4 linked regions of the Homo sapiens genome follow. The protein of the gene in region 4 interacts with the protein of the main gene of each other region in a pairwise test. Each region holds a gene or a part of one and is shown on either strand. Other genes may lie near its edges.

Region 1 (7,884 bases), on a different chromosome or scaffold from region 4:
ATGGGAGGACTGGAGTGAAAGCAGGTCCTCTGAGTGAAACCCTGCCTCACATCCCAGAGCCTGAGGACTCCAGAGAGAGTCGACGGGGGAGGTGGTGGGATGGGGACAGGGAAACACTCTTCAGAGAGAGTACCAAGGCTTAGAGGTCAGACTGAGGAAACAAATGCTTCACAGAGTCCTCAACCCATGACCATGAGTTCTTTAATAAGTAAGTGTGTGTGTGTGTGTATGTAAAATATGTGAGGCCCTCTAACGCCTCTTTTCTACGGTAGAACAAAGAGAAACTTCAGTTTTTGCCATCAATTTATTAAAATAAACATGTATAGCAGGTTTCAACAATTGTCTTGTAGTTTGTAGTAAAAAGACATAAGAAAGAGAAGGTGTGGTTTGCAGCAATCCGTAGTTGGTTTCTCACCATACCCTGCAGTTCTGTGAGCCAAAGGTCTTGCAGAAAGTTAAAATAAATCACAAAGACTGCTGTCATATATTAATTGCTAGAAAGCAAAAACAGAGACATCACTTAGATTTTCTGCACTCTCTAACAAAATAAAATCTTGAAAAACAGAAGCTTATCTTTTTCCACGGTTTGCCCACAACCATCTAGCATCCCAGACGGTTAGGGCTGGAAGTAGAAGAGCTGTTGTTTCTGGATCATTTCCCCCACCATGGACTTTTTAAATATTTTTTCTGTGTGTTTGTGGTTCTTTGAAATAATGTATTCAACAAATACGTGACTATATTACCTATTTTCACAGGATTGTTAAAATCTTAGCTCAAATGCAAAAAAAAAAAAAAAAAAAAAAGTGAAACTTTGAGCTCTCGTCTAACCCTCCATTGTGGAAATATTCCCAGCATCCCAGCAGTCCGACGCCCTCTGCCACCACCATTGTGCTCTACTAATTATTGGAGCTGCAGACTATGATCTGTCTGAGGAAGCTTTTAAAGAAACAAATCCATCACCCTTCCCTGCAGTTGATAATTAGTTTTTAACAAATTATTAATAGTGGTAAAATGTACATCTCATAAAATTTGCCATTTTAAGGGGACAGTTCGGAGTGTTCTGTATATTCGTGTGGTTGTGCAACCTAACTCCAGAATATTACTGTTTTGCACAACTGAAACTCCAGACCCATTAAATATGACTCCCCCTTCTTCTCTGCACCCAAGCCCTGACAACCACTGTTTTTTTTTTTTTCACTGTCTCTGAGTCTGGCTCCCCAGATTCCCATATGCATGGGTCATGCAGCATTTGTGTTTTTGTGACTCTTTGCTTCACTCTTCACTCGCTATAATATCCTCAAGGTTCATCCATGTTGTAGAAAGCGTCAGGGTTTCCTGAGGTGATGTTCACTTTCATCCTAATGGAGGGGTTTGGTATATTTCTAACTTTTTTTTTTTTTTTTTTTTTACCAGGGAAGGATTAAAGAAGAATTTAACATAGGGAATAAATGCTAAAGAAAACCCTCAACAATATACATGTATAGTTAGAAAGAAATACAAAACTATTGGTTTTTGTTTGAGGCAATTCTTCCTCCATGGTGGTTTCATACCCATGATCTACAGTTGCCTATTGGATAGTCCAAGGTTTCTCATCATTTATGCTAGCAAATTATGATTGCCTGGAAGTGCATTTTAAATTCTTTTTATTTGAGATGTATAGAATCTTGCTCAAATGGTATTTTCCAAACTGTTGAAAAATAGGGCATTTTTTAAGAAAGAACACTTTTACTTTTTTTTGAAGAAGAGAAGTTTTCTCTGCAGATTGGTCTATAGGTGCGGGTCTTCTGGAAAATTGTTTTTTCTGTAGAGAGTGAACATATGTTTGTATGTGTGTGTCTGAGTGTGTTTGTGTGTGTCTCTGTGTTTCTGTGGTTGTGTGGTTCTGTCTGTGTGTTTGTGTTTGTGTCTGGATGATTGTGTGCTGGTGTGATTGTGTCTGTGTCTGTGTCTGTGTCTTTGCCTGTCTGTCTATGTTTGTGTATGTCTGAATGTGTGTGTGTTTGTGTGATTGTGACTGTGTCTGTGTGTTTGCATGTGTCTGGATGTGTGTATGTGTGTTTCTGTGTTTGTGTGATTGTGTCTGTGTTTGTGAGCATGAATTAGAGAGCTCTGGGGATAGGTAAGACTTCTACCGACCTTTCCTTTTCCTCTCTTGCCCTATTCATTTATCATCCACTGAGGATTCTCTGGGTAGAGTGACAACACAGGGACACTGGATGTTTTTCTTGATGGCAAAGTCATTAGACTAACCATTCAACTAAATTAACCAATGTAAGAAAAGGCTTGTTCACTAGTGGCTTTGGCATTGTCAGTGAGAAATGAAGAGCCCACTTGTCCCTGGTCAGGGGATTTAAAAAGCTTATAGGAAGAAAATGAAATTACCATAAACACCTCAACATTGCTCAGAGTTTCATCCGTTTGGTTAAGAAAACATTCCTTCAATTCATCTATGGCATTTGTAGTGGCATTGTCGTCTATGAACTCTTGAAGAAGTTCTTTGTATTCAGTCTTAGACACTTGTGGATTGATTGTCTTGGAAATCACATTCTCCAATAAGGGGCAGCCAGAGCCTGGGAAGGATGCACAAGGAAACAAGCTTGGTACAGAAGGCATGAAAGGCTTGGGGCAGACCTATTACATTCCTCATCTTCTTACAGCCCAAGAGAATATAGACTCAAAGATAATGATGCAGAATCTAGAGTTCTCAAATCTGGGAGAAAACCTCAGGCTCTGGGATTTCCTGTAAGCCCTGCAACTTCTTTCTCTCCACTCCCCAGCCCAGAAAAGCTAAACCTCATGAAACTTCATTTAATGAGAAGACTTGAGAAATGAAACACTCGGACTTGGAAGTATATCGTGAAGATTATTTGGTCTTCTTTGGTTCAAAATCATACGATGCTTCACTATTACCATTCAGAGCATCACAGAAGATTTCCAAGTATCTTAGGCCAAGTGTGGTGGCTCACACCTATAATCCCAGCACTTTGGGAGGCCGAGGTGGACAGACTGCCTGAGCTCAGGAGTTCAAGACCAGCCTGGGCAACATGGTGAGATCTGTTATACCTACAGCCTTTGTACTGGGGCTGATCTCTGCTGAGAATTGGGGAGCAGGAGTTCTTCCATAGAGGCCCAAGTGACAACCCCTAACCCCGAGGCAGCCCTCCCTGCACAGAACTCACCTGCGTAGCAGTGCTGGGAGAGGGCCGCCAGCATGAGGACCATCAGCAACTTCATGGTGAGGCTGCTGCTGTCGGTGTTCAGTCGCGGGTGGCAAGGATCAAGGAAGCCGCTGTGGAGGTGAGCACCCAGCCTTGCTCTATTTATTCCCCAGGTAGGCATCTTAATTCCACCCATGAACGAGGCAATGAGTCAACCTGGCATGGGACCAGTAAACAGGAGCATGCCCCAGGGGAAACACAGCCAGCCTGTATGTAGAATCTTCCTGCTTCTCTTCCTCTTTCTTGTATTCCTTCTCCACTTGCTCCCCTTCCTTTTCTTCTCTGTCTCTTTCTTTAAGGTGAGAATGAAAGCATCATGTCCCGTGTATCTGTGCCAGCTTATCCCAGCAGTGGGCCTAGGTGCAATACCTCACACCTACTCTTGGGAGCAGGCTTTTCTCATCCACTGACATCTCATTTTCAGAAAGGGATGTCTGGGAAAGTTTTACCTTTTGTGGGGAAATTTAAGGCCATCCACCCTCCGCTGAAAGTTATTTTTACAAGGATTATCTCGGTTAATTATAAATTAATTGATAACTTTGTTTAGTTCTTTGGTAACTTTTTAGGGTTTTCTTTCCACTGATTCAAAGGATGCTGTGAATTAGTAGCGTAACTGATGGGCTGGACAGGCAGTGCTGGGTGGTGGGTGGTGATGGAATTTGGAATCAGGGATGAGGGTTTGGACCCTGGATGCAACTTGCAGTCCTGCCATGTCCTTGCTGGTCTCTCTGAGCATCCTTCCTTTTCATCACTTGAAGAAAATAAAAGGCGGAATGGGATAGCATGCAGAATTTGTATAAGGATGCTTCATGTAAAGATTGTTTCATGGCCGGTCGCAATGGCTCATGCCTGTAATCCCAGCACTTTGGGAGGCTGAGGTGGGTGAATCACCTGAGGTCAGGAGTTTGAGACCAGCTTGACCAACATGGAGAAACCCCTTCTCTACTAAAAATACAAAATTAGCTGGGCATGGTGGTACGTGCCTGTAGTCCAAGCTACTCAGGAGGCTGAGGCAGGAGAATTGCTTGAACCCAGGAGGTGGAGGTTGCAGTGGGCCGAGATCACACCATTGCACTCCAGCCTGGGCAACAAGAGTGAAACTCTGTCTCAAAAAAAAAATTGTTTCACACAGCCCAGTACAAAGTAGTCATGTATAAAGACAAGATTTCATCCATGCATGCAGCCATCCATCTTTAAATAACTACTGAGCATCCCCTATGAGCTGGCAGTGAGCTGCACACCATAAATTCAGTTATAGGCACAATTTAGACCAAGCCCTTGCTCTCATGGAGCTGACTTTCCAATAAGGGAGGTAACAAGCATCCTGCCACATAAGAGAGATATGAGAAAGTAGTAATCACTGCAAAGAACTCAAAATATCCACAACAGCAAAATGATGTCATGGACTGACTACTGAGAGGAGGAGGCCATGCCATTTCAGCTGACATTTGGATGAGTGGACGACACTGTCTAGTGACAGATCCAGGGAAGATGCAGTTCCATGCAGAGGGAATGACAAGATCAGAGACCAGAGGGCAGATGGCACTTGGCCAGGTAAGGAAGGCAAGGAACATGGCCACATGGGATCAGGAGGACAGGACAGCCTCATGTGACAGAAAACCCACCCTCGTTTAATTAGGGGCATGGTGAAGGTCATGGGAACAAGAAATACAAAGCTGGCTTGGGTTTTTTATAAAAGAGGCCGGGCGTGATGGCTCATGCCTGTAATCCCAGCACTTTGGGAGGCCAAGGTAGGCAGATCATGAAGTCAGGAGATTGAGACCATGCTTGCTAACATGATGAAACCCCATCTCGATTCAAAATACAAAAAATTAGATGGGCGTGGTGGTGCATGCCTGTAGTCCCAGGTACTCGGGAGGCTGAGGCAAGAGAACCACTTGAACCTCGCAGGCGAAGGTTGCAGTGAGCCAAGATCACGCCACTGCACTCCAGTCTGGGTGACAGAGTGAGACCCCATCTCAAAAGAAAAAAAGAAGATACGGATGAGAGAGCCAAAGAGATGAGTCGGTTCTTCACTTCCCGTGGATGCATTATTTGCTGTCCGGATTACCCATGACGTCTTTCTTTCCATCATTCAGCTGGAGCCTCAGATATTTTCCAGTTGAGAACAAAATTGATTTAGGAAGAGGCTAGAAAAGAAGGTTTCTGTACTTATAGGTGTACTTTCACCCAGCTGGCCATGGCAGGCATCCTTCTTCCATAAATGAAGTGAAAAACTTTGATCATGAAACGGAGACTGTCTCCTTGGCCAAGACCTAATGGGTCTCTGCCTGGTGCCCCAGTCCTTATGGACCTGCCCTCTTTCCCACAGGGACAAACACTCACGCAGAGTTATCTTACCCATCTAAAATGAACTCCCCACACCACCTACATGGTGCCCCACTAAAGAGATGGTGTTTTCTTTCACTCACATATTGTATCCAGATCTGACAGTGATCATTCTCTGGTGAGTCATAAGACATACCTGGCCCAAGAAAGGCTCATTTGCAAGCCAGTATTTGCAGGGAGAGAGAGGAGAATCAGAAGTTTAAAACACGGTACTGCTGGTCCAATTTTTTCTCTTCCCAAAAGGGAAGAATTGTTTTTTCTTTTTCTTTTGAGACAGAGTCTCGCCCTGTCACCCAGGCTGGAGTGCAGTGGCTTGATCTCGGCTCACTGCAACCTCCCCCTCCCAGGTTCTCCTGTCTCAGCCTCCCAAGTAGCTGGGACTACAGGTGCCTACCACCATGCCTGGCTAATTTTTGTATTTTTGGTATAGATGGGGTTTCACCTTATTGGTCAGGCTGGTCTCAAACTCCTGACCTCAGGTGATCTACCCACCTCAGCCTCCCAAAGTGCTGGGTTTATAGGCATGAGCCACAGCACCTGGCCGGGACTTTTATTCAGGTCCCTAATTCAGTTCAGAAACTGGAAGCCAAGTGTCCTTCAGTCTTCAGTGTTTCTGTGACAAGTGTTTACTGAGCCTCTACTATGACAAAGCAATAAGTCATTCACACATTCTCTCTAAAATGTGCTTGTGTTTTGTGAGGGGAAAAAAGTGTGCCTTAAAAAAAAAGGCAGACATCTACCCTGGCCTTGGGCTCACAAAAGAGCTGAGATGTAGGGACATGAGGGATTTGGGTAAAGGAAAGGCATTGCCATACTTCATATTAAATAGCAATGTTGTTTGAAAGTCATCTTTTCTCAGTGATTTCTGTATTTGTACCGAAAAGCCTGGAATGGCCGGCCCTGGAAGCTGCATCTCTGCTGAATTCTGCAGCCCTTTTCCTTCATAGGCCCATGGCTGATGGCTCCTGAGTGAGGACCCCAAGCCAGACCGACTGCCTGTGTTCACATCCCAGCTCCTCTGTTTGCTGACAGTGCCACGGTGGACAGGAGACTTAACGATTTGTGTCCGCTTCAAAATGGAAACAGTCATAGAATGGTTGTGACTCATAAGTAAAGTAAAAATGGTAAGGTACTGGGAACAGTGCCTGGTGCAGAGTCAGTGCTGTCTAAATGTCAGTTGCTCATCATCTTTTCCTATTGTTAAGAGTTGTATTTATGATTCAACTCCTAGGACTACTAAGCTCATCATAGAACACTGGAAAATTAGTCTGCCCTTAATATTCTCAAAAATATATCACAATAACCATAGTTAGACAAAGCAAAAACATTTAACTTGGAAAATAAAGCACTGCATTGTGATCCAGGCTTTGGTATCTTTTCTCTCAGTCCATTTTAAAGAATTTTGCTGAGCTCTAATTGACATATAAATTCTCTCCTAAACAGACCCTACATACTGTCGTCCGATGAATCTTCCCAGAACTCAGCTCCAAATGTGCTTCCACTTGCTTTTTAATGTTCAGTAGAGCAGGAATCATAATTATGTAGCAGTTTGCTGTTTGAAAGGCACTGTTGAACCCTGTGACAACATTCCTAGCAGCAACCTTAGCAGAAGGGTGACCGTATTATTTGTTAGCCAAACTCCAACATTTTGGTGGCTGAAAAGAAACATAAAATCAATGGGATGCCAGGACAATAACATAACCCAGGACTGCTGTGGGCAAATTAGCATGAGTAGTCACTTCCCTATGATGTGGGCATGTCATTTCACCCCACCTAACAGAAATGTGACACAGAGATGTTAAGGCACTCACCTGAAAGAACACAGCTAGGAAGGGGCAGAAGCGGGATAAAAAGCCAGATGTTCTGGCTCCACAGGCTGCTCTCAACACTATTTCCCTCCTTGGCTGAACACTGAGGGACCTGCACATCATGGTTCAGATGAGTCCTGGTGTCCATGACTCCCACTGCTGCCCTATGAGAACTCTGGGTTGATTTCTGCACAAGCCCTGGAGAAGAGTTTTCTGCTTGAGACCTTTGCTCCAAGTGGATTCCCCTCCTCCTCTGCCCTTGCCTCAGCTGCTCTGGGTTGAAACACTTCATTCCAAAAGCCACATCAAAGATGGCTAATGCCTTGTGTTCTTTGCTGGCCCTGCATCTCTGGGGACCTCCCTGTTCACAGGACCCTGTATCTGTCCATAGGCAGTTCCATCTGACATCTCCAGGACCCTCACCCTGACCCTTCCTCCCTGTCCCTGCTCATTGAGCTCATGGCTTGGGCACTTCTTGTTTGTATTATAGTGATGAAAACTACTTATTT
Region 2 (7,501 bases), on a different chromosome or scaffold from region 4:
TAAAATCCAGTCTGGTTTGTATTTTACAGTTCAAAGTAAATAATATAGAAAGGCTGTTGTGGTGGTCATTCCCTTCCCCCCACCTTTGTAAATGTTGAACTCTGAGGAAGGAAAGAGAAAAGAGATCAAGGTGAAAGTTGAGGGAGAAAGTGAGAACGGAAGATGAGATTAAAGTGTGTATTTTTGTATATAGATATACTTTAATTTCTGTATATTTGGTATATAGAAAGGGAAATGAGTTGTTATGGCTAGTATTGATCATCAGTGTGGGGGTTATAGATCCTAAATCTAGATTTGTAGTTCCTGTCTTTGAATATCTTTGGTTAGGGAGAGAAGGGAGAGGAGAATAATTAGTGCATTCATGAAGTACAGTTGGGAGACTTTAATATGATACTAAAAGAATTCCAACTCTTCTAAGAAGAGGTAGGGTCTGGGAAACATTGGCTTAAATGGTAGAGAACCTTTGTGCTCTTTGAGAATAAATGAACAAAATTGCATTAGCACAGGGAAATGAGGTTGGAGACTGAAAAATAACAATATTCACCAAAACCCTAATGGTGGAGAAGTGATACATTAGTAAAGACTGAAATTGGTAGCTGGGTTATGTTAAAACACATTTCCTATCTCTGATTACAAATTGTATCTCAACTGCTGGCAACTCTTTGAATTTATTGTGCCGAAACTTGCTTAATCATACAATACATACGCTCTTCTTTTTGTAGGCGGCACTCCCCCTATCGCACACTGGAGCCAGTGCGTCCTCCAGTGGTACCAAATGATTACGTACCTAGCCCAACCCGTAATATGGCTCCCTCGCAGCAGAGCCCTGTGAGGACAGCTTCTGTGAATCAAAGAAATCGAACTTACAGGTATTTTCTCTACCTCAGTGCAAAATGTGATGGTCATAGTACCATAATCTGTTCAGATTACTTCAGGTAAATCTCTCATTTTCCAAGCACTAAGTTCTTTTCCTCACTCTATTCTCCCAAACCTCATCTGATTTCACCTCTCTCTCCTCATGTTCTGATTCAACTTTGAGCAGTCAGGAAGTTGATAAAGAACAGACATCTCAAAGTGCAGACTTCTCTCCAAGTTTTAAGAGTTCAGTTGATCTGGAAAAAAAATTATGGACCAAATGTGGGAAATGTCAGGTTGTTTTTTGGTGGAACTTTACAGATGAAAAACTATACATAATAAAACATTAATATGGGATAGTACATCAGAGTATGATTATTAATTAAAATTACTCAAATCTGTTTAGGAAAATGTTTTTGTTTTATTATAAAAGAAGTTTCTTCAGATAGGCATTAAACTGGAATATAAAAAGGCAATATTTATTGTTTTAATGTGTTAAACCTCAACATTTATCACTTGTATTTATGGATAATTTTTTCAAAATGTGGTCAAAACAAGCTTATTGAACTCAGTTTTCCCCTCAACTTTATTAATAAGTAAATATATATATATATATACACACACACACACACACACACACACACACACACACATTTTTTTTTAACCTGTCACTGACTTGGAGCTCAAGGAAATTTTATTTTGAAGTGGTACGCTTTTGAATTACCTTTATTGTAGCTACATTCATCTCAGAAAATGTCGGGAAGTGCTGATGATCTCTTACTGTTTATAAATACTCATGTTTTGGTGGCTCTTATTTCTTTAGCAGCAGTGGGAGTAGTGGAGGGAGCCACCCAAGTAGTCGGAGCAGCAGTCGAGAGAACAGTGGAAGTGGTAGTGTGGGGGTTCCTATTGCTGTTCCTACTCCATCTCCTCCCAGTGTCTTTCCAGGTAAAACATTCATGGTGCCTCGTCTTCACTTTTCCTTTCTGAATTTGATTCAATTTGTGATTTAATTATGGTGGGCTTTCTTCGTAATCAGGATTTTTTTTCTTTAGGAATCATAAATATTGGGAAGTCTATATATTTGTTATTTGTAAGCAAGTGATTTGTAAGTGTTTGCTCACTTTGCACTTCTCTTTATGCCTTTGGTGATGTGGCTCAGTTGCTGCTTTGAGGTTTCAGATCACACTTTGTTATGAGTACAAGTTTAATTCCAGCTAGTGTTATGACAGTGCAGTCTTTGGACACAGTGGGAACTCAGTGTGAGAACCATATTAGTAACAAAGGATTGGGCAGATATAAAAAGTAGTTTTGACAGTTAAATTTAGTGGCTGTATTGGAATTTAGTAGTCTCTGAAAATACTACCCTCTTTTCTCTGAAACAGAAAAATCTGCTTATTTGATTCGAGGAGATACACACTTAAAACTTAGTTTTGAAAACGTGACACAAAATACATTAATAGAATGTTACATACTTAATTTACTTATAGTAACAAGTAGATAATGCCTTTTAAAAATCATAAAGATTTGTGTTTTAAAAAAAATTTTTAATCTGATAATATGGAATATGTCTATTTTCTGATTTGTGTAATTCAAAATGGAAAACTGTTGTTTTTTAGTGTATTATGTTAGTTTTGTATACTATATACAGAATGTTATGCTAAAAATAACAATACGAAGGGAACACTTTTCTTCTGGAGTAGTGCTTTCAATTGAAAAGGAATGTTTGTTTTTAATGAATTGAAAAAATCTGCACATTACCCTGAGCATCTTGAATTATTTGCTGCTTATATAGTAATCCTTTAGCATAAGTTTTATTCTTTTTTTCAACTCTGTTCTTTTGGTTAGTGTTAAGCACTGAATATCTAACATTAAATACTCTAATACCTTTTCTAATCCTGCCTCATGTGATTGCCTCATTAATGCTGCCTCTTACTCCTCTTTCCCCTCAGCCCCTGCTGGCTCTGCTGGCACTCCTCCCCTTCCTGCTACTTCTGCATCTGCCCCTGCTCCTCTTGTTCCTGCTACTGTCCCTTCCTCCACTGCCCCAGACGCTGCTGCTGGGGGTGCCCAGACCCTTGCTGATGGCTTCACTTCTCCAACTCCCCCTGTTGTTTCTTCCACTCCCCCTACAGGTAAGTATTTGCTTATTCATTGGCAGGCAGATGCAGTCATCTGGCTATTCTCTTACTTGCACCTCTGATTTTTGTTTGTTTTTGGTTTTGTTGTACTTCGTATTAAAAAAAAATAAGAATAATGTACTAACCAGAAAGTATGTGACCAAAGATTAGCATTTCCTGAGAAAATTGAGGTAAAGTTTCTCATACATTTTTCCAATAGGGTAGCATAAATTTGTGTTTTTTTATTGCTTGAATTTCATTTATTAGAGATTTTTAAGTTTAATATGGAGCTACCTTCTATACAGTTTTTGGAAATTATCATTAGAAATATTTTCATTATAGGTTAAGTGATTAACAAAAGTCTATTACAATAATTCTAAGGTATATTTTATAGGAAATATTTGATACAACAAATGGAAAGCCTCTGTAAGTCTATTTTTAACAGAATCTGTTGCTTATTATAGCAGCATTGGAAACTCATAGACAATGGACTTTTAAAGAATTTCAGGTTTATTTAAGTTGGCTGGTGTTTTAAAATTGCAATCTAAAATCTGTTTTGATTGGGGAGGAGATAGACTCAATTGCTACGAAATATATTTGTAGAGTTAATGATGCTGGCTAGTAACAGGTTCTTGTCTGCTATAAAATGTATGTGTTTGGACATATATCACTGTATTAGTCTGTTCTCACATTGCTATAAATACCTGAGACTGGGTAATTTATGCAGAAAAGAGGTTTAATTGGCTAACGGTTCTTCAGGCTGTACAGGAAGCATGATAGTGGCATCTGCTTGGCTTCTGGGGAGGCCTCAGGAAACTTACACTCATGGCCTAAGGCAGAGGGGAAGCACACTGGTCACGTGGCCAGAGTAGGAGCAAGAGGACAAGGCGGGAGGTGCTACACACTTTTAAACAACCAGATCTCATTATTGCAAGAACAGCTCCAAGGGGGATGGTGTTAAACCATGAGAAACCGCCCTTGTGATCCAGTCACCTCCCCCTAGGCCCCACCTCCAACATTGGGGATTACAATTCAACATGAGATTTGGGCAGGGACACAGATTCAAAGCATATCAATCACCGTAGTGTTCCACTTGCCAGTGAAGAACTTCATGGCATTTATATTCAGCTTTGCTGTTATACATGTTAAACATATATAAGATCTTTACATGTTTTAAAAGACACTTTTAGCCAAAATGGATTTTGGGTGATGTCTTGTGGGATTCCTTCTATATGACTTTTAAAGAAAAGCTTTCTGCAGTAGATAAATGTAAACATGGGGTGTTTTTTGATCCAGATACAACTGTTAGGCCAAACTAACTAGTTAAATATAGGAATCTCGTTATGCTCCTGCTTTGATAAAGAATGCATCAGAAAGGACAAATCACCCCCAACTGAGAGTCTATGTTTTAGTAATTAAATATTAATTGAATAACAGGTGCCTGGCTCAGTGTTCACTAAATAAACATTTGTTATGTGAGGGGATAATTAACTGTGGTTTTTAAAACAAAAAGCAAGGTAAATGTCTTATTAATAATTTATATCAGGATAGTCTGTTTTATACAGTACCTGAGTTACCAAGCAATTGTTTTTCTTTTTACCAAGGTATAACTTATGTACAGTAAAATTCACCCTTTATACCATATATGTTTGTGAGTTTTGGCAAAGGTGTACTGACATGTAATTGCCACCACAATCAAGTTACAGAACAGTCCTATCATCGCAAAAATTTCCTCCATGCCCCCTTTATAGTCAGTCCTTCCCTTCCACTCCCAGCTCCTGGTAAGCCCTTGATGTGTTTTTTTTCTCTAAAGTTGTGCCTTTTTAAGTATAACATAAATGAAAGCATATAGTATGTAGCTTTTTTGATCTGTTTTTTTTGGCCAGATGCATTTGAGAATTACCCATGTTGTTGCATGTTTAAGTATTTCATTACATTTTATTGCTTAGTAGTGTTGTATTGTATGGGGATGTACCACAATTTGTTTATCCCTTTCTCAGAGGACATTTAGATTTTTCTAGTTTTGAGTGCTTATGAATAAAGTTGCTATAAACATGTACATACAGGGTTTTTTTTGTGCACATGGGTTTTTATATCAGGTAAATACCTAGGGAATAGAATTGCTGGGTTATATTGTAAGTAAATTTTTAACGTCATAAGAAACTGCCAAGTTGTTTTCCAAAATGGCTGTATAATTTTACACTCCCAGCAGCAATGTGTGAGTTTCCAGTTGCATCCTTGTCAGCCCTTGGTGTTGCCTTTTTTAGCTTTAGCCATTCCAATACATGTGTAATGGTTTCTCATTACATGTGTGGTTTGGATTTGCATTTTCTTAATGACTAATGATATTGAACATTTTTTTCATGTGCTTATTTGCCATGTGTATATCCTCTTTGGTGAAGTATCTGTTCAAATGTTTTGTTCCTTCTCACCTTTTTAATAGGGTTTTTTTCCTTATCATTGAGTTCTTTTATATTCTAAATATATGTCCTTTATAGATTATGAGTTACAAATATTTTCTTCCATTTTGTGATTCGTTTGCTTATTTTCTATTTTTTTGGCGGGGGGAGGAGGGGCGGGCGGACAGAGTTTCACTCTTGGTGTCCAGGCTGGAGTGCAATGGCAGGATCTCAGCTCACTGCAATCTCCGCCTCGCGGGTTCAAGCGATTCTCCTGCCCAGCCTCCCAAATAGCTGGGATTACAGGCACCCACCACCATGCCCAGCTAATTTTTGTATTTTTAGTAGAGACGGGGTTTCACCACGTTGGCCAGGTTGGTCTTGAACTCCTGACCTCAGGTGATCCGCCCGCCTCAGCCTCCCAAAGTGCTGGGATTACAGGCGTGAGCCACTGGGTCCAGCCTGTTCATTTATTTTTTTGATGTTGTATTTCAAATAGCAGAAATTCTTCATTTTTATTAAGTGTTATTTTTCAAAATTTTTTTAAATGAATCGTGCTTTGATGGCATATCTAAGAACTCTTTACCTGAAGTCATAAAGATTTTGTTCTGTGTTTTCTTCTAGAAGTTTTTAGTTTCAGGTTTTATCGCTAGGTTTATGATAATTAGGTATATATATTTTTAAAACCCCAAATGGTAAATCGACTCATTAATAGTGTGAATAGTGTCTTTTTTTTTTTTTTTTTTTTTTTTTTTTGAGACAGAGTCTCACTCTGTCACCCAGGCTGGAATACAGTGGCAATCTCGGCCCACTGCAATCTCCGCTGCCTGGATTCAAGTGATTCTCCTGCCGTAGCCTCCTGAGGAGCTGGGATTACAAGTGTGAGCCACCACACCCAGCTAATTTTTTGTATTTTTAATGGAGACAAAGTTTCACCGTGTTGGTCAGGCTGGTCTTGAACTCCTGATCTGAAATGATCCACCCGCCTCCACCTCCCATAGTACTGTGATTAAAGGCCTGAGCCACCATGCCCAGCCCATGTGAGGTTTTAGACTAGATCTAACTATATAAAATTCATAATGATGTTAATCCAGATGTTTTTAACTTGATCGTAGGTTTGTATTAGTTTGCTATAGATTAATTACTGAAATGCTAATTGTATTCAGTGGTTCAAATAACTAAATATGCCTTTTAAATCATAGTTTATATGTTTTCATTTTTATCATGGTTACAGAGGCTTCTCAGTTGATAGTGGATTATGTTTAAGCTTGAGTGCTTAAGTTTTTGATACACATGTAAGATGTTTAAATGTTATAACAAGCCTTGAGTGCTCTTATAATCCTTATATGACTCCATATGAATCTAAGCTTGGTAAACTTTCAGCTCCTGTAGAACAATTTTAGTCATATAAAACCATTTTATAATCATAGACAAGATGAAAAATTGTCAAAGTGTTGTTTTCCTCTAATACTTTTAATTAAAATTACCAAGAAGATAGTCTCATATTAAGGTAGAATAAAGATGGTAAGACTCAGCTGAGAAATATGAAGCCTGGAAGAGGATATGACTGCAGTGTTTGATCATGAAGATTTCAACAAATCAAGCATTCATCAAATTCCATATTACATAAGTCTTATCTCACTGTGTTTCAAGTAGTTTATTTTAGAATTTAAAAAATTTCAGGATAACCTTAGGCACAAATGGATAGATGAGTGTGCCAGGTATCATCTGTTCCTCCAGTCCCCCCTCCTCTACTCTCCCCTCTTCTCCAGTAGGCTGACCTCCATGAAATGTTTCAGTGGATTCTTTTGCCCTCTGGCTTCCTGTTGGGTTTAGCAAAAGTGTTTTTTTTTTCCTTTTCACTTATCTCCTCCTTTTCTCCCTTTCTCTTTCTCCTTTCCTTTCCCCTCTGCTATCCTCTTGCCCTCCTCCACCTTCATCTCCTCCTCCTCTACCTTCCTGTCCCCTTTCCGCTTTCTTCTCCACCTGCTTATTTCTCCGCCTCCTCTTCTCTCTTGCCCTCCCCTTCTCCCTTGTCTGCTATTGTGCTCTCTCATGGGTGCTGTGGTGCTCTGTCTGTAAGAAAAAGTTCTCAGCTTAATGTAGGTGGGAGTGCAGTCAAGGTAA
Region 3 (7,485 bases), on a different chromosome or scaffold from region 4:
CGGCTTATGTTTGTATTTTTTCTAGAGACGGGGTTTCTCCATGTTGGCCATGCCTAGTCTTGAACTCCCGGCCTCAAGTGATCCTCCCACCTCAGCCTCCCAAGGTGGTGAGATTACAGGCATGAGCCACTGCGCCTGGCTGTGCTGTTAACAATTCTTGACATCTTCTGGAAATGTGCTATTTTACAAAAGCACGTATACATATAGCTTGCATATACAAAATGTGTGTATGTGTTCACATGCAGATAGATATATAAACAGACAGAATTTGATGGTGTCATGAGACAGAAAGAGAAAATGGTAGCCCACAGGTATAAAGTAGGGGTGTTGGGGTGAAGGCAGACTTGAAAGGGGCTGTTGATGGACCAGGTAGGAGGGCCTGAGGAGAAGTGATGGAATACAAGGATGGAAGCAAGGATGGGGCAGGAGAGTCTTAATATTTGTGTTGCAAAAAAATTTTGCAGTTTAGGAGGTGAGAAATCCAACATCCAGTTAGCCTCAGTTTCCTTAACTAAAAAATGGGATAATGATGTATATTCCTCACAGGTTTATAGTGATGATTAGAAGGGGCGAATATATATATAAACAAACATACATATATGTTTGTTTGTTTTTTGGACAGAGTCTCGATCTGTCACCCAGGCTGGTATGCAGTGGTGCGATTTTGGCTCACTGCAACCTCCGCCTCCCAGGTTCAAGTGATTCTCCCATCTTAGCCTCCTGAGTAGCTGAGACTACAGGCACGTGCCACCACGCCCAGCTAATTTTTGTATTTTTAGTAGAGATGGGGTTTCACTATATCTTGGCCAGGTTGGTCTTGAACTCCTGACCTCAGGTGATCCACCCACCTTGGCCTCCCAAAGTGCTGGGATTACAGGCGTGAGCCACTGTGCCTGGCCAGGGCTAATATATTTAAAGTGCTTAGCATTGCACCTCAAACAATATTCTAAGCATTCTCTCAGCGTGTGCTGCTATTATAGTTGTTGATGTTATTAGGGTGCTGCTATTGTTGCTGTTTTCAGAATGCTTCACGTGGTCCCTGGCCCGTGAGTGAACCTCTATCCATCTGCAGTTGGCATATGGAAAGAACCTCCTGGTCACATTTCTCTTTCCATTTTAGAAATCATTCTTTTGTTGTGACACTGTCTTTTCATTTTCCTTCCCTGACTGCTCTTAACTTCCTACTTTATGCTGTGCACTCTTGAAGAAAACTTTCTGGTACCTGATGGTTATAAATCCTTGGAGGCGCGTGAAGATGTTTTAGGTAGTAAAGGGCAGTGGCCATTTTCTCACTTTGTCTCCCTGGCCTGGTCTTAAGCTGTTGGGCATTCTTTAGTCAGGAACATCTTCTTATTTGCTGTACTTCACACATACTGCCTAAGGATATCAATTAGAATTGCTTACTTAAGAAAAATGCCCAGCAATCGTTAAGGCCACTCTTGTTCATTTCCTGCATTTTTTTTTTTTTTTTTTTTGAGATGGAGTCTCACTCTGTTGCCCAGGCTGGAGTGCAGTGGCGTGATCTTGGCTCACTGCAACTTCCGCCTCCTGGGTTCAAGCGATTCTTCTCCTGCTTCAGCCTCCCCAGTAGCTGGGACTACACGCTCCCGCCACCTCACCAGGCTAATTTTTGTATTTTTAGTAGAGACTGGGTTTCACCACGTTGGTCAGGCTTGTCTCAAACTTCCGACCTCAAGTGATCTGCCTGCCTTGGCCTCCAAAGTGCTGGGATTACAGGCGTGAGCCACTGCGCCCAGCCCATTGTCTTCATTTTAAGAGCACTGACTCTGCTGCTCCTCTTGAGACATCTTGGGCAGTGATTCTGTTCTTCTGGGATACTCTGGGTGTTTCTACTTGTATTTAGAATGGCTGGCTTAAAAGTCTTTGTTTGAATATTCCGCATTCTGAATGCTCTTAGTTGTCAGTAAAACTATGCCTGCCTACGCACTCTTCTATTTCTGATTTAAAAATAGGTTCAGCTGCCTAACAATTACACATACTCTATTTTGCACGCGCACATTACTTAAGGAGACATTTAGAGGGTAGATAGCTTTTATTCCTATGAGTTATCTTGAAATCATCTTCTTAACTATCTTTTTTTCCCCAAAGGGGCCATATTTTGAAGGATTTGTGATGAGACTTTTGGTCTGTGAAGCCCAAGACACAATCTCCAACATGCACAGGAAATCCAGTATCAAATTTCTAACATGTCTTCAGAGACAGGCCCAGGGCTGGCTTGAGCGTGTCAGAGAGGTGTGCACTGCGTACTACCCATCATACATGGCCACACATGCCTGTGGCTGTGAGAAATACTGGTGGTGACAAAGACAATGAGATGCCAGAGAAAAAGATCAGTGGGGTTTGCAAAAGTGATTAAGATGTCGTCCTAGGTATAATTAAAGACTTAATAAGGTTGAAGGAAAGAGAGGACATTGCACATACCGAGGCCCCTGAGAGATCTGCCTGGCAACCCAGAAAGGGACATATGGGGGAAAACGCCTTAGTGTAACCAGGTCAGAATTTTCATTCTGGGCAGAACTGGAATTTGAATAATAATACTGAGTCATATAGCGCATACAGCTATGACATTTCATTTATTTCTCTATATAATGCAATAAAGTAGATGGATTAACCGTGACGTTTACAGATGGAGCAGGGGAGAATGAAGAGGCGTCAGTTTGGGCATCAGGCTGGATCTTCACACTCTGACCTCACTCTGCTCTATCCTGCCCAGTGTTGCTTCACCTGATATCAGGGGTGCAAGGCAACCAGATCTGACACCAGTTTCAGTTTAGATCCTGCCTTTACCTGGGTGTGACCCGGGTCCATCTCTTCAGCTCGGCCTCTGCTTTCTCTTCATAAACTTTTGGGGTTAGTCCTCGGATGATCTCTAAAACATGGCCCAGGTGCTCCTTGCCAGTAGAGTGTAGCCGGATTTGGAGGGACTGGACACTCAGTGTGAACAAGACGAAGGCCTCAGGAGGCAGTAAAAGCTGACAAGAGGAGAGAAAATGAAGCGCCTACGGGTGCATACTGGACTAGCGGGCGAAAGGCCATGACTCCTTAGTTTGGAGAAAGAACTGGGGCCGAGATTGGGGAAGTTTCCCAGTGCAATTAAAAAAAAAAAAAAAAAGAACTAGAAGAATTACCCAGGTCTGGCTTCTTTCGTGTAGCCTGGGGCTGAGTCGCAGGCTGAGAAATCCAGTCTGGCCAGTAGGGGGCTCCACCAAGCGCAGTCTCAGAATGCCCAAGAGCTCCACCGTCGCCCGGGGTCTCCACCAAGCGCAGTCTCAGAATGCCCAAGAGCCCCACCGTCGCCCGGGGTCTCCAAGAGGAGTGGGTCGTGGTGGGCGTTGAAGGGCCGTAAAAGACGAGCAGCCCGCGTCCGCGTCCGTCCTCCCGGGTCTCCAGTCCGCAGGCGGCCGCCGCCTCGGCCCCGCCCTCCCACCTCCATTCCCGGCCCCGCGGACCCGAACGGTCCCTCTCGCAACCGATCTGCTGGCTGGGGCGCTGGGGATGCGAATTCCTAGAAGCCTTAAGAGGCTGCCCAGCGTTGGAAGTTCGTATCCCCAAGAATGCTGGAGGTTCCGGCTCACACACCCCCTCCGGGCACAGAGTCAGCTGGGGGGTGCTGGGAGGGAGAACGCCCCGCTCCTCACCCCCCATCCCCGTGCACCCTGGAGCCCAGCTCCATACGTTCGGCCACCCCAGGCGGACTCGGGGTGGCCGGGTAGCGGGTGGTGGCAGGAGGGGACCGGGTAACGGCAGGCCCGAGAGGAGGTCGCTGGGCCGGGCCGGAGGCGCACAGGGGCTGCGTGGCTACCTCGGCGGCACCCGCCCCACCTCCGCCGGCTAAGCCCGGAGGGGGACGGTGAGTCAGATCTCGGGCACCCGCGGGTCGGGCGGGGAGGGGGAGGCAGGTCAGGAAATGACATCAGAGGCCTGTGCTCAGGGAGTGGGGGTCTGAGCCGGGCTGGGGCGGCGGGGGCGGCAGTGAGTGGGGTGGGGGCGAGCGGACCTCGGCGGAGCCTCCGGCCTGAGGCAGGATCAGGGCCCCTTCCTGGGGGAGTTTCCTGCCTGGTCCGCCCTTCCCCGCTCTCCCCGCCCCCTCTCCGGGCCGCTCCTTGTATGGTCTGGGCGCCGCTCTCTCCCCGCCCCCTCTCTTCTCCCTCCCTCCTCCTTCCGTGTGTCCCTCCCCGCCCGGCTGGAGGCTGCTCCGGACCGGGACGCAGAGTCTGCGGACCCGGCGCCGAGGCGGCCACCCGAGACGCGGCGCGCACGCTCCGGCCTGCGGTGAGGCGCGGGGAGCGGCAGGGCGGCCCCACGGGGAGGGGGCGCGGGGCGCCGGGAGGGGGCGAGTGGGGGTCACCAAGGGGAGCTGGGACCGCCTGGGGCTCCTGAGCCCGGCTCCGCGCTGCGTAACCCGGCGACCCACCCCAGCAGCCCGGCCCGGCCATGGCGGCCCCCCGCCCGTCTCCCGCGATCTCCGTTTCGGTCTCGGCTCCGGCTTTTTACGCCCCGCAGAAGAAGTTCGGCCCTGTGGTGGCCCCAAAGCCCAAAGTGAATCCCTTCCGGCCCGGGGACAGCGAGCCTCCCCCGGCACCCGGGGCCCAGCGCGCACAGATGGGCCGGGTGGGCGAGATTCCCCCGCCGCCCCCGGAAGGTATGCGGCGGGGCTTGGGGAATGTACCCCGGCAGGAGCCGGGGTGGGGGGCAGTCGTTTCGGGAATTTGGGGATGTCTGGAAAGGTTGTTGCCGAGGGGGCTGGGCGCAGCCACCCTGTCCCGAGCAGATGTTCTTACCTCATCGTGGAGCTCGTGGCTGGGAGCCAGGGCTCCTGGGACCGTTCCAAGTCCCCCGCCTGGGAGTGGGAGTCGGGAATGTGGGGCACGAATCTTCCCCTCCGGGTCCGTTTTCCGAAGTGTAACGGGAGCTGCACCACTCCTCGGCAGTGCGCCCGGCCTTTCCTGACCTGGTACTCCCAGGGCGCCCTGCGCCCCTCCTTTGCTTCCCCACACGCTCTGGGACCCCTGAGAGAGTTCTTGGGTTAGGGGTTAGAGCGGTTAACTGAGGGGAGCTTGGGTGAGGGGTAGAGGGACCCCGGCCGACGTCTTTCTCCTTCCTACCCCAGACTTTCCCCTGCCTCCACCTCCCCTTGCTGGGGATGGCGACGATGCAGAGGGTGCTCTGGGAGGTGCCTTCCCGCCGCCCCCTCCCCCGATCGAGGAATCATTTCCCCCTGCGCCTCTGGAGGAGGAGATCTTCCCTTCCCCGCCGCCTCCTCCGGAGGAGGAGGGAGGGCCTGAGGCCCCCATACCGCCCCCACCACAGGTACGGAGGCCTGGGAGGGGCGGCTGCACTGGACACCCCCAAGGAGAGGAGAAGAGGGCCCTTTCTTCTTACCTCCCCTGCACCTCTGCCTTGGGGGTGGGGGGATAGAGGCATGGAATAGGTGCTCTGACCTCTGACCCTCTAGCCCAGGGAGAAGGTGAGCAGTATTGATTTGGAGATCGACTCTCTGTCCTCACTGCTGGATGACATGACCAAGAATGATCCTTTCAAAGCCCGGGTAAGGGACCGGAGAGTAGGAAAAGCAGGGCTCAGGGCCAGAGAGACTGGGCATAGAACTAAGGAGGATGGTGTCCTCCTGACTGCATCTCTCTTCCCTCTCCCACCCCTTGCAGGTGTCATCTGGATATGTGCCCCCACCAGTGGCCACTCCATTCAGTTCCAAGTCCAGTACCAAGCCTGCAGCCGGGGGCACAGCACCCCTGCCTCCTTGGAAGTCCCCTTCCAGCTCCCAGCCTCTGCCCCAGGTTCCGGCTCCGGCTCAGAGCCAGACACAGTTCCATGTTCAGCCCCAGCCCCAGCCCAAGCCTCAGGTCCAACTCCATGTCCAGTCCCAGACCCAGCCTGTGTCTTTGGCTAACACCCAGCCCCGAGGGCCCCCAGCCTCATCTCCGGCTCCAGCCCCTAAGTTTTCTCCAGTGACTCCTAAGTTTACTCCTGTGGCTTCCAAGTTCAGTCCTGGAGCCCCAGGTGGATCTGGGTCACAACCAAATCAAAAATTGGGGCACCCCGAAGCTCTTTCTGCTGGCACAGGCTCCCCTCAACCTCCCAGCTTCACCTATGCCCAGCAGAGGGAGAAGCCCCGAGTGCAGGAGAAGCAGCACCCCGTGCCCCCACCGGCTCAGAACCAAAACCAGGTGAGGGATGGTGATAGGACAAGGCTTGGTACCAGGGCACTGGGGCGGGGCTGGGTCAGGAGCCAGAGCATAAGCATAAGGTGATTGGAGAGTCAGGGTGGACACGGGGGTTGCGGGGTGGCGGGATAGGAATTTTCATCCTCTGGGGTTAGCCTGGTGGAACAATGGTAGGAAAATGCTCCTCTGGAGGAGAGGCCTGGCTGGGTGTGGGGCTGGGTGGGGCCTGGCTGGGACGGCGCAGAGAGCATGGGCTCTGAATTAGGAGGATCTGGTGGACCTTTCCTTGTGCCTTTACCCCAGAAAGTTAAAGGGAGGGATGAGATCACCAGTTCCACCTTGGTTTTTCCCATTCTTGGGTCTTGAGTTAATCTCCCTGCTCCTCTGAGCACTCTTTCTGCCTGAGGGCTTGGAGGTAAGAGACAGCCCCAGTAAACACTGGTTGAGCCAGCATCCACCACGTGCCAGGCACTGTGCTCTGTGCCCAGGAGGGTAGGACATGGGAGGGAAGAGATCTCTGCAAGAAGCTCAGCCTTCAGGTGTCAGATGGACCTGGAATGGAATTCTTGGCTCAGCTTCTCCCAAGTCCTTAGACTGGGCAAGTTAGGTGAACCCTGAGCCTCAGTTTCTCAATCTTTAACATTCTCTACTCCATACAGTGGTTGTGAAGATTGGGTGAGCTAATACCTAGAGAGTGTTGGGTTCTGTATCTAGTACAGGAATGCTCAAAATAGAAAAGCTGTAATTACAAAATGGTTCTTGCCTTCTAGTTCAGGAAATAAGATCGTCCAATTTCTGGTGACGAAGATGACCCTGATGGTCATCTAGTCCAAGCATCCAGAGTCCACTGATAGTGTTGATGTCTACCTACACTCGGACACAGCATAGGAAGAAATGCCAAGGGCCAGTGAGCTTTGCAGAATCCTGTGAGTCACAGGCACTCAGACCAGGGAGTCAACTCGGGGAGTCAAATTAGGAAAGGCTTCGAAGGATGGGCAGGACGTAAGAATCCAGAGAGGAGAGGGATGTTTGGAGAACAGAAAGTGGAAGGTTCCTGTAGGAAAATGATAGAGCTATACTTGGAGAGGCAAGCGGGGCTGGAGGGTGTAGGAGGTGAAGTGGCTCACCCAAGGAGCTCTTGAGCACTGGAGAGGCATTCATGATTTTTGAGTAGGTGTGGGGTGGGTCAGGAGGGCTGGTGAAAGCAGTGTTTTTGGAAGCTTTCTGGAAAGTTTCACCAGCAGAGATGTGTATTCGAGGGAGGTCAGTGATGGGTGTGAAT
Region 4 (7,723 bases):
GCCTAACTTTCCTGTGCCTCAGTTTCCCCATCTATAAACTGAGTACCGGGGTGGGGAGGCCACAAGGTTGTAATAGTATCATTGTTCGAACTGCCATGAGGGGCCAGGTGTGGTGGCTGACGTCTGTAATAATAACACTTTAGGAGGTCGAGGCGGGTGGATCACCTGAGGTTAAGAGTTCGAGACCAGCCTGGCCATCACGGTGAAACCCTATCTCTACTAAAAATATAAAAATTAGCCGGGCATGGTGGCAGGCACCTGTAGTCCCAGCTACTCGGAAGGTTGAGGAGGAGAATCGCTTGAACCCAGGAGACGGAGGTTGCAGTGAGCCGAGATCATGCCATTTCACAACAGCCTGGGCAACAAGAGCAAAATTTCCGTCTCAAAACAAACAAACAAACCAACAAAAAAACCAGCCAGAATTGCTGTCAGGCACAAAAATGCCCCACATAAAATAGATGCTTGATCAAATGGTCTCTTATTTTTTAAAAATAAAAATAGCTATTATTGGAAGAAGAAAGAAATGGACCCCAGTTCTCCCCAAGTCCCTTCTGCCCTGAGATTCTAGACCTCTGCCTCGCTTCTCTGTCTTCCCAGCACCCCAGCTCCAGTCCCGGACACAGCCAACACTCAACAAATATTTGTCAAACTGGGAGAAAAAGAACTATATCTTGTAATTTTCCATCTTAACATCCTCTCTTCCAACTGCCCCCAGGACTGTCCCCAGCCAAACCAGCCAGAAATCAGAGGATCCTAGGCTCCTCCACCCCTCCAACGTTGCCTAGGAATTTCTGAGGGATCTTGGCCATGTCTTTTTCTCTTTGAGCCTCAGTTTCCCCAGCTGGGTAATAGGGGCATGGGTTTTGAATTCTGGCTGTCCTTGGAGAAGAGGCACAGCCCAGGAAGTCGGGTGTGACCACCTGCAGGGGAGACCCCCTGGAAAGGTGGGAGTGGCCTTTTGGTGGGACAGGCATCTGGTCATTTCTGCACCGCACCCCACCCCAGCACCCCCACAAGACGGGATGCTTGGCCACCACCACAGCAAGAGGTGGGCCTTGTGGGAGGGCCAGGGCTTCCAGGGCTGGTGCTGGTGGTGGTGGTGGTGGTGGGGAGGACAGGGGGCCGGCCCAGACACCGCTCCTGCCCTTTTACGGTTGCAGTGAGTGAGGCAGCACTAACTCGGACATCCGCCATCCGCCTTCCACCGAGCCTGGGACCGGAAACGCGAGGGGGGGTGGAGGGGCGGGGCTGGGGGGCAAGGGGAGAGAAGAGTCCCGGAGGAAGAGGGCGAAGGAAGAGAGCGACGCTCCCTAAACTGACCCCTCTCCAGGGCGGACTTGGAAGGGATGTTGCTATAATGGGGAGCGGATAGGCAGGAAGTCTTGAGGGTATCTGTGGGTGTCCTCCTTGCTCCAAATTTTCCAGCCATGCCTTTCACATCAGAAGGAACAAACGCGGGAGGGGGATTCTCTAGTGGTCATAAAAAGGAATGCCACGCCACTCCGATGTCAAAGGGCAGGGGTTCAGGAAATGCGGGGGATGTGGGCACCACGGGGTTAATCCCCAACCGTCCCCAGGGGCCTCCCTGCTCAGGCTGGGGGCTTTGGGGCAGGAAGTCCCAGAGAGAGTAGAGGAAGGGAGATAGTATTGTCAGGCTCTGGCCCCATGGGAGAGATTATGGGGGGCCAGGGGAGGGAAGAATAGGGGGGATGGTTGGGCCCCCCTGCCCACACTGGCCCCGCCCTCAGGTGAGCCCAGGAGTTCGGGGGAGGCCCCGGCCAGACCAAATCCCTGGGTCCCTTGGGCCGCCACCCCCAGGATTAAATTCCTGGGAAGATAGCTGGAATTATCTGGGAAGCCTGGGTCCCTAGGGAAGAGGGCTATGACCTTGAAGCTTTCCAGCTCCCCCTCCTCCAACCCCAAGGCTCCGGGTGGATAGGGGGACGGTGAGCAAAGGGGGAGGGGCCGTGGTGGGGAAGGCAGCCGGCCTACAGCGCTTGGTGCCCGCCCCCCACACCAGCTGTCTCGACAGGTGAGTCAGGAAGACAAAGGCCCCCTTCCCCCAGCTGCCGCGCCCCCTCCCTCTCCAGGGCCGCGCAGGTGGGGGAGCCGGGCCGCCCTTATGGCCGGAGGCGGGGAGCCGCCCTCTGCTCCGAGCGCCCGCTCGGTCCTAGGCACGGCCAGTTAAGCAGATTGTGTGCGGAGCGACGGGGAAGGGGGGGGTCCCACCAGACTCTGGAGGCTGCGTCCAGGTCCCTGGATCGGTTCACACCAGCCTCCTCCACAGGAAGACCTAAGTGACCCCCAAAATCCAGGGGATTAAGAAGTACCCCCGAAGTTATGGAGCGCGGTCCCACTTGGGGAGACTTTTTCCAGCACCAAGTAAACGGGGGACCTGCACACCCAGGGTCTGAGTCTCAGTCTCTCTTCCAAGTCCCAGGGTATCCCAAATCGGTCCCCCACAATCCTTCCCGGACCTCGAGCTGAAGTCTGGGGGGAGGGGGAGGAGAGTCTGAGCCCTGCCTCAATCCTGGCATCCCTGCGGGGAGTCGCTGCCAACTTTGAGGTCCTCTAAAAAAAGTCTTAACAATTCGGGAGTCCTCCGAGCGCCCCCAAATCTTGAGGGCTCCCAGGAGAACCTCACCGCCACCACCCCCCGAGCTTGGGGAGTCAGTCGTGGAGAAGTGATCGACGGTTCTGGGGCGCGTCCAAGGGGATTCAGCTCAAATCCGAGGCTCCCAAGGATCTGTCCCCAAATTCCAGCCCGGAGCTAGCTGGGGGGGAGGGGGACAAAGGCGGGGCGCGGAGCCCGCCCGGGCGGGGACGGGTCGGGGGGCAGGTCCGGCTCACCTCATGGCTGCTCGGCGGGCGGGCGGCTCGCCCACGGGCTGGCTGCTCCCGGGGCGCCCCTGGCTGGAGGTTCAGGGGTTCGGGGCTGGCTCCGGGCTCGGCTCAGGCTCCCCCAGGGTCCCGCCCCATAGAGTCCGGCTTCCTGGGGAGAATGTGGACCGGGCCGGGGCGGGTCTCCGGGCGCCGCTTCCCTCAGGCGGTCTGATGAGAGGTTCCTGCAGCAGAAAGGGGATGCAGCGTCCGCTCCCCAGCGCGCACCCCTTGCCGGTGGCGGCTACAGTGTTACTCTTACTACTGTACTTCTCTTCGTTACATTTCGTTCCAAAATTCCACTCCCCGCACCCACAATGCCCCGCGCCTTAAAGGGGCCGCGTGCGCCTCCAGGCGAGGGGGTGGAGGGCGCTTAAAAGGGCAACTCTGCACCCTCGGCTTCCGCGATCTCGCTCCTCTCCCCAATGTTGTAGCCCAGGGGTGCACCCTGGGAATCACCCCCACCTGAGGGGCAAGTTGGTGAAGGGGAAGGGGACCTCCCTTGCTTCCTAGTTCGCTCCCACTGTGGGAATTCTGAGGAGGGTCTCGGAAGGGGCGCGATTTCTTTCCCCATCGACTTCTCCATCTCGTACTCCGCTCAATTTTGGGGGTCGAGGAGGACCCTCAAGTTAAGCAAGTGGTCTCAGATTTTCTCCCTGAAATCCCATCTTCGGAACACCGCCCCTCCCCAGCGTTTCTCTTCTGTCAATTTCGGAGAGGTTACTAAGGGGGCGAGACCCCCACCCGCACGGGAGTGGAAGTCGGGGGAGTAGGGCCCAACCCCTCTCACCCCACCCCGCCCGCCCCGGGAAGGTGAGGAGGAAGTGGGCCAAGGGGGCGCGGTCGGTCGCTGACTCACAGCCGCAGGGTCGGGGGTGGGGTGGGGTGGAGGTGGGGACTGGCGAGGAGTGCGGGAGTGGGGGGCCCGGCATTCGCCCGGGGTGGGCAGGAGGCGCCGGCTTCTTTGGTGTGTAAAGCCTCCGGCCCACGCACGCCCCGCTCTGACTCAGTTTCGCCTGCGGAGGACAGCAGGATCATCCCAGCCCTCAGGAGGGCCCGGAGGTGAGGAGACCCTCCCGGGAGCCCCCGCCCCCACACGCCGGCTCCGGGCTGAGCCCAGACACCCTCTGAGGCTTCCGCAGCGTGTCTTGCCGGCCCCGCCCCGAGTGACGTCACTGATTTGGTCGCGCCCCTTGGGTAGAGCGCCACCTGGCCCGGGTGAGGCGCCCGAGCCCTGGGAAATCAGTTAGTTCCACATTTACACACGGGTAAACTGAGGCCTGGAGACAGGGAATGAATCTGGCCTATGGCCCTCTTGCCTGAGCCCCCAGAACCCGGAAAGCCACCAAGGTCTGAGTGTAAAACCAACAATTCTCAGGGCCAGCTGACTATGTGAGAGAATCCACTTTTCCAGCGTATGTCCAAGCCGAGTCCCATGTCCGGATGTTGATGTTGTCCTGACCTCCTTTACCTGGGGAGCACGTCATCCTTCCAGGCCAAGCTTTGACATTAATTCCCCTCCCCTTCTCCACCCCACTCTGGGAGACCTTGAACCCTGTTCCTCGGAGGTTATCATTGTTTCTCAGTGTGTTTCCTCAGGCTGAGTTGTCTGGGAGAATGGGTAGACTAAATTTCTTTTTTTCTTTTTTTTTTTTTGAGATGTAGTCTCTCGCTGTCACCCAGGCTGGAGGGCGCTGGCTCGATCCCCGCTTACTGCAACCTCCCCCTCCTGGGTTCAAGCAATTCTCCTGCCTCACCCTCCTAAAGTAGCTGGGATTACAGGCACGGGCCACCAAGCCCAACTAATTTTTGTATTTTTAGTAGAGATGGGATTTCACCATGTTGGCCAGGCTGGTCTCAAACTTATGACCTCAGGTGATCTGCCTGCCTCAGTCTCCCAAAGTGCTAGGATTACAGGCATGAGCCACTGCACCCAGTTGACTTAATCAATTTCTGGACCTCACTCACCCCAGCCAGGCCCGCCCGGCTCAGCAGCTCAACAAACTTACCTAGTTGAATGAGTTACCAGTTCAGTGTGACCTTGGGTAACTGTGTTCTCCTCTCTGGGTCTCAGCTTTCCCATCTGTGACATAGGAGGGGTGGCATTTCTGGGTGCCACCTACACTACAACAACAGTCAGCAAACATGGTTTTTTGTTTGTTTGTTTGTTGGAGACAGGGTCTTTGTTGCCCATGCCGGAGCGCAGTAGCATAACCAGGGCTCATTCGATCCTCTAACCTCAGCCCACTGAGTAGCTGGGACTGTAGGTCCACACCACCATGCCAGGCTAATTTTTTGTAGAGACAGGGTTTAGCTGTGTTGCCCAGGCTGGTCTCAAACTCCTGGGCTAAAGTGATCAGCCTGGCTCAGCCTCCCAAAGTGCTGGGATTGGAGGTGTGAGTCACCAGGCCCAGCCGGCAAACATTTTCTGTAAAAGTTCAAATAGGAAATATTTTAGATATGCTAGACATAGGGTCTGGTTTACACACTCTTCAGTTTTTCTTTTTTCTTACAAGGCTTAAAAACTGTAAAAAAAACTCTTCTTAGCTTAAGTGCTGTACAAAACAGGTAGCAAGACCCCTGTGTAAGAGAACGCTTGCATATGTACATAACGATCTTTACGGTAGCAGTGATGTGAGAGCAAGAAATTGGAAATAGCTTAAATGTTCATCAAGAGGACAGGGGAGGCTGGGCACAGTGGCTCACGCCTGTAATCCCAGCACTTTGGGAGGCCGAGGCGGGTGGATCACTTGAGGTCAGGAGTTCAAGACCAGCCTGGCCAACATGGTGAAACCCCGTTTCTACCAAAAACAAAAAATTAACCAGGCATGGTGGCACACACCTGTAATCCCAGCTACTTGGGTGGCTGAGGGGCTGAGGTGGGAGGATCACTTGAACCCCGGAGGCGGAGGTTGCAGTGAGCCAAGATCGTGACACTACACTCCAGCCTGGGAGACAGAGCAAGACTCCTCAAAAAAAATTAAACAAAACAAAACAAAAAAAAGATGAGGGCAGGGAATAGTGAAACCCTTGGACATCCTTTTCTGAAGCACGGAGTGAGCAGCAACTTAAGGAGGTGTGGACTGGGCAAGGTGTGTCATGCCTGTAATCCCAGTGCTTTGGTGCTTTGAGAAGCCAAGGCAGGAGGATCACTTGAGGTCAGGGAGTTTGAGACCAGCCTGGACAACATAGTGAGGCCCCATTTCTCTCTTTTTTTTTTTTTTTTTTTTGAGACAGAGTTTCATTCTTGTTTCCCAGGCTAGAGTTCAATGGCGCAATCTCGGCTCACTGCAACCTCCACCTCCTGGGTTCAAGCGATTCTCCTGCCTCAGCCTCCCAAGTAGCTGGGATTACAGGCATGCACCACCAAGCCCAGCTAATTTTTGCATTTTTTAGTAGAGATGGGGTTTCTCCATGTTGGTCAGGCTGGTCTCGAACTCCTGACCTCAGAAGATCTGCCCACCTGGGCCTCCCAAAGTGGTGGGATTACACGTGTGAGCCACTGCGCCTGGCCGAGACCCCATCTCTAAAAAAAAAAAAAAAATTAACTGGGTGTGGTATCATCCATCTGTGGTCCCAGCTACTTGGGAAGATGAGGTAGGAGGATTGCTTGAGCCCAGGAGTTCGAGGCTGTGGTGAGCGATGATTGCGCCATTATACTCCAGCTTGGGATACAGACTTAGACCTTGTCTCTTAAAAAAACGGGTGGCATGAAGTGTGTAAATGACGTGGGTGACATAGAATGAAAACATCCATTAAGTGGATAAAAAGTTGCCAGAGATACGAAGGGAATGAAAAAAATCAAGGAAACACCCAGAATACCATATATTAATACATGTAAAAAGTCCACTTTAAACTCATTGCAAGGGTTACCAGTGAGATAGAGAGTGTGGGGTTAATTTGGTGGTCACAGAGATCTTTTTTTTTTTTTGTAGAGACAAGGTTTTGCTATGTTGCCCATGCTGGTCTCGAATTCCTGGAATCAAGCTGCCTCGGCCTCCCAAAGTGCTGGGATTACAAGTGTGAGCCACCGCACTTGGGAGGTCTCAAGTCTGTCTTGAAAATGCCAAATTTGGCCGGACCTGGTGGCTGGCTCATGCCTGTAATCCCAACATTTTGGGAGGCCGAGTTGGGTGGATCACCTAAGGTCAGGAGTTCGAGACCAGCCTGACTAACATGGTGAAACCCTGTCTGTAGTAAATACAAAAAGTTAGCCTGGTGTGGTGGCACGTGCCTGTAATCCCAGCTACTTGGGAGGCTGAGGCAGGAGAATCACTTGAACCCAGGAGGCGGAGGTTGCAGTGAGCCGAGATTGCACCATTGCACTCCAGCCTGGGCAACAAGAGTGAAAACTCTGTCTCAAAAAAAAAAAAAAAAAGGGGGGAAATTTTATCCTGCTTCTAAGCCTTCATACTGATTGTTCCCTCTGCCTTAGAACACTCTTTGGGGTATTTGCGGAGCTGACTCTTCTCTGTCAGGTCTCTGCTCAACTGTCCCCTCCTCAGAGACCTTTCCTGATTCCCCTGTTTCAAAAGCCACCTCCCCCACCACGGAAAATTGAGTGGCTGAAGTGTGAGAGGGATAGAGAAAGACTTCATTGTATGCCATCTTGCACTCTTTGCATTTCAAACCAAGTGAATTTATTACCCATTCAAAACTACCTGAATTAAATAAATCAAAATTTTAAAAATTGGAAAAAGTAAAAAACCCGAAGTAGCTCCCCTAGTCATTTTCTCAACACATCCTCCTGTTTTATTTTCTTCGTGACACTTGTCAGTGTGCAAGATGACTTCATTTTTTTAGTATTAATTACAGACTGGGCGGGAGAATGGCATGAACCCGG

The links.
Region 1: the proteins of VASP (region 4) and SCGB2A2 interact in binary tests that used the Homo sapiens proteins (3 or more experiments, as listed by UniProt).
Region 2: the proteins of VASP (region 4) and ABI2 interact in binary tests that used the Homo sapiens proteins (3 or more experiments, as listed by UniProt).
Region 3: the proteins of VASP (region 4) and ZYX interact in binary tests that used the Homo sapiens proteins (3 or more experiments, as listed by UniProt).

What each region holds. Positions count from the first base shown.
Region 1 is NC_000011.10:62,265,567-62,273,450, reverse strand, and holds SCGB2A2 (mammaglobin-A precursor), read right to left. Parts: upstream 3,294-7,884; 5' UTR 3,235-3,293; coding exon 3,180-3,234; intron 2,571-3,179; coding exon 2,383-2,570; coding exon of another isoform or gene 2,263-2,382; exon of another isoform or gene 2,248-2,262; intron 495-2,247; coding exon 456-494; 3' UTR 291-455; downstream 1-290.
Region 2 is NC_000002.12:203,393,978-203,401,478, forward strand, and holds part of ABI2 (abl interactor 2), read left to right. Parts: intron 1-722; coding exon 723-869; intron 870-1,678; coding exon 1,679-1,803; intron 1,804-2,807; coding exon 2,808-2,990; intron 2,991-7,501. UniProt on the Homo sapiens protein: Regulator of actin cytoskeleton dynamics underlying cell motility and adhesion. Functions as a component of the WAVE complex, which activates actin nucleating machinery Arp2/3 to drive lamellipodia formation.
Region 3 is NC_000007.14:143,377,117-143,384,601, forward strand, and holds the start of ZYX (zyxin), read left to right. Parts: upstream 1-4,228; 5' UTR 4,229-4,293; intron 4,294-4,440; 5' UTR 4,441-4,455; coding exon 4,456-4,663; intron 4,664-4,802; exon of another isoform or gene 4,803-5,131; coding exon 5,132-5,331; intron 5,332-5,476; coding exon 5,477-5,569; exon of another isoform or gene 5,570-5,684; coding exon 5,685-6,206; intron 6,207-6,973; coding exon of another isoform or gene 6,974-6,985; exon of another isoform or gene 6,986-7,485. UniProt on the Homo sapiens protein: Adhesion plaque protein. Binds alpha-actinin and the CRP protein. Important for targeting TES and ENA/VASP family members to focal adhesions and for the formation of actin-rich structures.
Region 4 is NC_000019.10:45,502,904-45,510,626, reverse strand, and holds the start of VASP (vasodilator-stimulated phosphoprotein), read right to left. Parts: upstream 3,149-7,723; 5' UTR 2,856-3,148; coding exon 2,851-2,855; intron 1-2,850. UniProt on the Homo sapiens protein: Ena/VASP proteins are actin-associated proteins involved in a range of processes dependent on cytoskeleton remodeling and cell polarity such as axon guidance, lamellipodial and filopodial dynamics, platelet activation and cell migration.